2 separate regions of the Homo sapiens genome follow, and region 2 is linked to region 1. Evidence: fine-mapped expression QTL. A gene starts in region 1. The other region holds a variant in brackets. All regions are shown on one strand. Distances are between the middles of the regions.

What was found.
Region 2: its variant is fine-mapped to the expression of TAX1BP3 in whole blood (TOPMed, PIP 0.97).

The regions. Positions count from the first base shown.
Region 1 is chr17:3,666,816-3,669,710 of GRCh38, reverse strand. It overlaps TAX1BP3 (Tax1 binding protein 3), which reads left to right and starts at 1,133. Exons shown (of 4, transcript NM_014604.4): 1 at 1,133-1,223. The coding sequence starts at 1,185. It overlaps EMC6 (ER membrane protein complex subunit 6), which reads right to left and starts at 899. Exons shown (of 2, transcript NM_031298.4): 1 at 812-899; 2 at 46-613. The coding sequence starts at 564. The coding sequence ends at 232. It overlaps P2RX5-TAX1BP3 (P2RX5-TAX1BP3 readthrough (NMD candidate)), which reads left to right. Exons shown (of 15, transcript NR_037928.1): 12 at 1-653. RefSeq lists enhancers at 1-213, 214-744, 1,277-1,807, 1,808-2,339 and a silencer at 846-1,185.
Region 2 is chr17:3,590,519-3,593,413 of GRCh38, reverse strand. It overlaps TRPV1 (transient receptor potential cation channel subfamily V member 1), which reads left to right. Exons shown (of 17, transcript NM_080704.4): 3 at 1,031-1,347; 4 at 2,061-2,227; 5 at 2,298-2,450. The coding sequence starts at 1,064. Among named protein-coding and RNA genes, the nearest start is that of TRPV1, 17 kb to the left of the region's middle. The variant A/G (reference allele first, on the strand shown) is at 1,317.

The sequences.
Region 1 (2,895 bases):
ATCAGTGGCAGCCTAAGCGTTACAGCAGGAAAGAACTCCACAAAGTGTCTCACGCTTCATTTAATCTGAAGAATATTACAGGCTCTCCGTCTTCAGATATAAATTATTTATAACGTTACAGAACAAGCAGCGAATTCAACCACTTAAGAACTAAGGAAGTCTACATGGTGTTAATTGCTGGCCACAGTCCTCCCGATCTGGTTTTTTAAAAAAGTCCCCCGGGCCCCCATTTCAGTAGACGTGCACCATGCCGTAGAGGAACGTCCAGAACAGGACGTAGGTGAAGAGGCCCCCGATGAGGCCTCCTGTAAAGAGAGGTCTCCGTGATTTGAAATATTTGTTCCACCTCCTTCCCGCCTTGAGAATGAGGAGCAGGGAGAGCAGGACGGAGGCGAGCAGGTAGAAGATGAAGCCGTAGAGGCCGGTGAGGCCGAGGATGCCGGCCGTGGCCCCCGACAGCGCTGACACCGAGGTCCGGCAATAATCCAGGACGGCGGCGTTGCCCCGCACGGCCGCCTCGCTGATGAACGGCGGCCCTTCCCGCTTGGCCACCACCGCGGCCATCGCACCAGCCCGGGCTCGGCCTCTCGCTTTCTCGCGGAACAACGCGGAGCTGCGGAGAAAACCAAGTTACAAGTGGCGCCCGGAGCTCGGTGAGTTGGGTTCACGCCGCCCCCTCCCCCTGGAGCTTCCGAGACCTGGCACCAGTCCTGGGCCTCGGATCTTCCAAAGACGCCGAGGAGATTGAGGGTCCGGGCCGGCCGGGAGGTGGTGGCGCGTCTGCGTTCCCCGGCCACGGTGGCCCAGTTACCTGGAACACGGCGCCGGACACACTACTTAGCGTTCCCTCAGACGGGCAGTGGAAGAAATGCCCGCGGCGCCATCTTGCTCGGAAGACTGCCGGGAGGTCTCGGGCTGCGCACGCGCCCAGATCCCGCCCCGCCCTCCGCGCCTGCGCCGTGGGCGCCCCGGACACGCTCCGCCCTCTGCCCGCTTTTCTGCGCACGCGCAGGGACTTCCGAAAGCGGAGTGGCGCTCCGGCCAGTGATTGGCTGGAGGTTTGTTAACTATTCATGAGGGGGCGGGCCGAGCGGGGCGGCCTTTGTTAAGCAGCGAGGGCGCGACCGCGGGTACTCTGCTGCCGGCTTCTCGGAGCGGCGCTGGGCGACCAGAGCAGGGTCGAGATGTCCTACATCCCGGGCCAGCCGGTCACCGCCGTGGTGGTGAGTGCGCTTGCGCGGGCTCCTCCTCGTCTTGGCCTGACCCCACCTCGCAGAGCGGGAAACGGACACCCCAAGCAGGTTGACAGAGCATCGAACCCGGGGCTCCTGCGAACCGGCGGCAAGGGCTCGGGTCCCCGCTTTGCCGGAGCGGGCCGCAGTTCCCCCAGCCACGAAACAGGGATGGCCGGGACCCGAGAGCCTCCCGAGACCCTGGACAGAGCCCAGACTGCGTGCGCAGGGCGGGGAGGGCCACGGGGAAAGGCCTGGCTGCAGGAGCCTGGAAAAGCGCCCCCTTCCCGGGCCTCCGTGTCCCCAGACGGGGAGCTGCTGGGGGCGGGCGCCGATCCCGACGTCCATGAGTCGCAGCCTCTGGAATGAGGAAATGCTTCCTCCGCTGCAGCCTGCGCCGCCGCCCGGAGGGAGATCTGGGGGTGGGGCTCTCCCGAGCCTGCCGTGGCAGCCCCTGCCCCCTTCCTGTCCAGCCTTGCTCCTCCAACCCACTCGCCGCCTGGTCCAGGGTGGACGCTCGTATAGCTGCGATGAGCGTTTCCTCTTCGAACTTTTCCTGGGTCTCCAGCCCTTAAGGCAAAAAAGTCCAGGCCTCCCTCCTGGCACTTGAGTCCTGAGTAGACCCTCCGGGGGCTAGCCTAGGCCCCTGGCCGCCCTCTGGCTTGTTTTAGGTGCTGGGTGCTATTAGACTAGGCAGAGGGAGGAAGGAAGGCTGGGACGTTAGACTCAGACGCCGGTGTCACAGAGGGACACAACCCTATGACAGAGGTGGGGAGTCCCAGAGAGAAGTGCTCAGCCAGAAAAGACCACCTCAGGAAAGACTCAGGTCTCCTGCCTACCTCCCGACAGCGTTCAGAGAATGAGAAGAAATGCCTGCCCGGTGGGCAGTAGGTCAAGCGAAAGTCCCCGCCCTGGAGCCATAGGGACTGGGTGTGTTATCTCAGTTGGGTGTGCTGGAGAAGCTCCAGCAATCAGGTGGGTGGAGGCAGAGAAGCCACTGATAAAGGCGACAAGTGAGGCTGAGCTTAGAGCACTGGCTCAGGCCTGGGCCAGGAGGAAACATTGCTGGACCAGCTGACAGCTGTCCTAAGCTTCACCCTCCCTGCACCAGCTTGACTTTTTTTTTTTTTTTTTTTTTGAGACAGTCTTGCTCTGTCGCCCAGGCTGGAGTACAGTGGCGCGATCTCGGTTCATTGCAACCTCCGCCTCCTGGGTTCAAGCGATTCTCCTGCCTCAGCCTCCCGAGTAGCTGGGATTACAGGCATGCACCAGCATGCCCAGCTAATTTTTGTATTTTTAGTAGAACGGGGTTTCACCATGTTGGCCAGGCTTGTCTTGAACTCCTGACCTCTGGTGATCCACCTGCCTCAGCCTCCCAAAGTGCTGGGATTACAGGCGTGAGGCACCACACCCGGCCCAGCCTGGCTTTTTTAGATCCCTACCTGCCCCAGAGAGAAGGCACCAGGTTTGCTCTTTAGGTAGAAGGGGGGCAGGGACAGGTGAGGAGCTACAGCAAGCCACCTTCTGCGTGACCTCACCCAGCAAATCAGTGACAGCCCTGTCTCCCAACCCAAGGGCCTGTAATCTTCTGACCGTGCCGGCAGAGCAGGCCTGGAGGAGCTCAGTTTGGGGCATGAGGACCCAGGCACAGTAGGCCTCATGC
Region 2 (2,895 bases), 76 kb after region 1:
CTCATGTGTCCAACTACACATGCTGCTGCCAGCGGCCAGCTGATCTCTAGGTGTTTAGGCCTAGAAGACCAACCAGCTCCAAATCACTTAAAGCCTAAACGTTCCCTGTCTCTACTAAAAATACAAACATTAGCCACGCATGGTGGCGGGCGCCTGTAATCCCAGCTACTTGGGAGGCTGAGGGAGGAGAATCGCTTGAACCTGGGAGGTGGAGGTTGCAGTGAGCAGAGATTGCCCCATTGCACTCTAGTCTGGGCGACAGAGTGAGACACACAGACACACACACACACACACACACACACACACACACACACACACACACACACACACACGCCTAAACATTCAAGGCCAGGATGCTTGACAGATGTTGATTCATAAAAATGACAAAAAGCACAAAATCCAAAATCTCGTATAAGCTCAGTGGCTGTGGCAGCGAGGTTGAAGAGCAAAGGCAGGCCGGGCACCTGGCTGATGATGTGTGGACCCGTTGCACAGCAGGGCCCCGCAGTGCGGTGTGGGTGTGGGTGGGCCAGTCTCTGCCGCTCACCCTATTCCAGGGACACAGTCTGCTTGGCTCTTCTGGACTGAGCCATCCTCATCACCGAGATCCTCCCTGAATTCAGCCCACGACAGCCACCCCGGCCGTTTTCCTTGTTCTGTGTGGGGAGGGAGGCAGCGCGGTGGTTATCAACCTCACCCTGCAGAGGAGGCACCTGAGGCCCAGAGACGAGGAGGGATGGGTCTAACCCAGAACCACAGATGGCTCTGAGCCGGGGGCCTGTCCACCCTCCCAGGCCGACGTCAGTGGCCGCAGGACTGCCTGGGCCCTGCTAGGCCTGCTCACCTCTGAGGCCTCTGGGGTGAGAGGTTCAGTCCTGGAAACACTTCAGTTCTAGGGGGCTGGGGGCAGCAGCAAGTTGGAGTTTTGGGGTACCCTGCTTCACAGGGCCCTTGGCAAGGAGGGCAGGTGGGGTCTAAGGACAAGCAGTCCTTACTTTGGGAGTCAACCCCGGCGTGGTGGCTGCTGCAGGTTGCACACTGGGCCACAGAGGATCCAGCAAGGATGAAGAAATGGAGCAGCACAGACTTGGGGGCAGCTGCGGACCCACTCCAAAAGGACACCTGCCCAGACCCCCTGGATGGAGACCCTAACTCCAGGCCACCTCCAGCCAAGCCCCAGCTCTCCACGGCCAAGAGCCGCACCCGGCTCTTTGGGAAGGGTGACTCGGAGGAGGCTTTCCCGGTGGATTGCCCTCACGAGGAAGGTGAGCTGGACTCCTGCCCGACCATCACAGTCAGCCCTGTTATCACCATCC[A/G]GAGGCCAGGAGACGGCCCCACCGGTGCCAGGTAAGTCCGCGTCTGGAGCCCCCCTCCCTGCTGGGAGCCCAGCTGGCCATGGAGATGCCACAGGGTGGTCTGGCTTCTGGGCTAAATGTCACAAAGCCAGGGGGCTGGAGAGCCTTAGGGGTGGTCTGGTCCAGCGTCCTTCCTCATGTGACCTCGTGGGATGTGCAGTCACGGGGGCTGGTGTCTGTGCTGGGTCTAGGTGTCCACGCCCGCAATGCCTACCAGCCACAGACACTTGGACTTGAAGTCTAAAAGCTCAAGGGCAGGAGGCTTTTGGAGAGCACAGCACAGCTCCAGTGAGCTGCAAGGCAGGGCAGGGAGGGCCACAGGCTGGCTGACTTCTGGGGAGTGTGAGGCCACCTTTTCCCTTAGAGGGGCTGTCTACACCCCTGCCTCCACCTCCCTCCGTCCCCACCAGGCTCCTGCCTCCCGAGCTCCCGAGCAGGCAGAGAAGCCAGTGGTCTGGGAGTAGGAGGGTGACTTTCTAGATGGTGTCTATAGACAGGGTGGGGACAGAATGGGGACACATGCCCTCCACTGTCCCTGTTACATTGCTTTTCTGGACAGTCACCTAGACTGAGGGGCAGCTTTTATATCATTTTTCCCCTTTTTGGTTTGCCTTGGGATTTAGTCGTGTTCCCTTGACAAGCTCCGAAGGCCTCAGGGCCGAGGGGAGGCCAGGGTATGAGACGAGCGTGTTTTCTGGCCCACAGGCTGCTGTCCCAGGACTCTGTCGCCGCCAGCACCGAGAAGACCCTCAGGCTCTATGATCGCAGGAGTATCTTTGAAGCCGTTGCTCAGAATAACTGCCAGGATCTGGAGAGCCTGCTGCTCTTCCTGCAGAAGAGCAAGAAGCACCTCACAGACAACGAGTTCAAAGGTGGCCCCAGCGCTGGGCTCGGGGAGGGCCCCAGCCCTGGCCTGCCCTGACCCTCCCTTATGTCTTTCAGACCCTGAGACAGGGAAGACCTGTCTGCTGAAAGCCATGCTCAACCTGCACGACGGACAGAACACCACCATCCCCCTGCTCCTGGAGATCGCGCGGCAAACGGACAGCCTGAAGGAGCTTGTCAACGCCAGCTACACGGACAGCTACTACAAGGGTGAGGAGGGCGGCGGGGCCGGGCATGGCTCAGCCCGCAGCACCGGGAAGCAGGGGGGCATGGTTGTCCCTGGGCCTCCTTGCTTCTCTGGGATCCTTACTCCCTGTCCCAGCCACTGCGTTGGTGGCTCCTAATCCTAGGGGGTCCCTGCCTCTCCCATCTGCTGGCTTGATTTCTCCTGGTCCTGGGGGTCTCTGCCTCCCCGATCTGATGTCTCCTCTCTTGACCCTGAGAAGTCCCTGCCTCCCCCTGCTGACTGGATGGTCCCTGTCCCTGGAAGTCACAGCCTCTGGCCTTTCTCTCTGCTGCTGTTCCTTGCCCCCGGGGCAATTTTGACTCCTCTGGCTTCCAACCCGTTATTTCCTGTTCCCAGGGGTCTCCTGTCTCAGGACCTTGCTGGGACCCCTTGGGGGACCCTGGCCTGGCCTCCTGCAGTGGGGGGGTC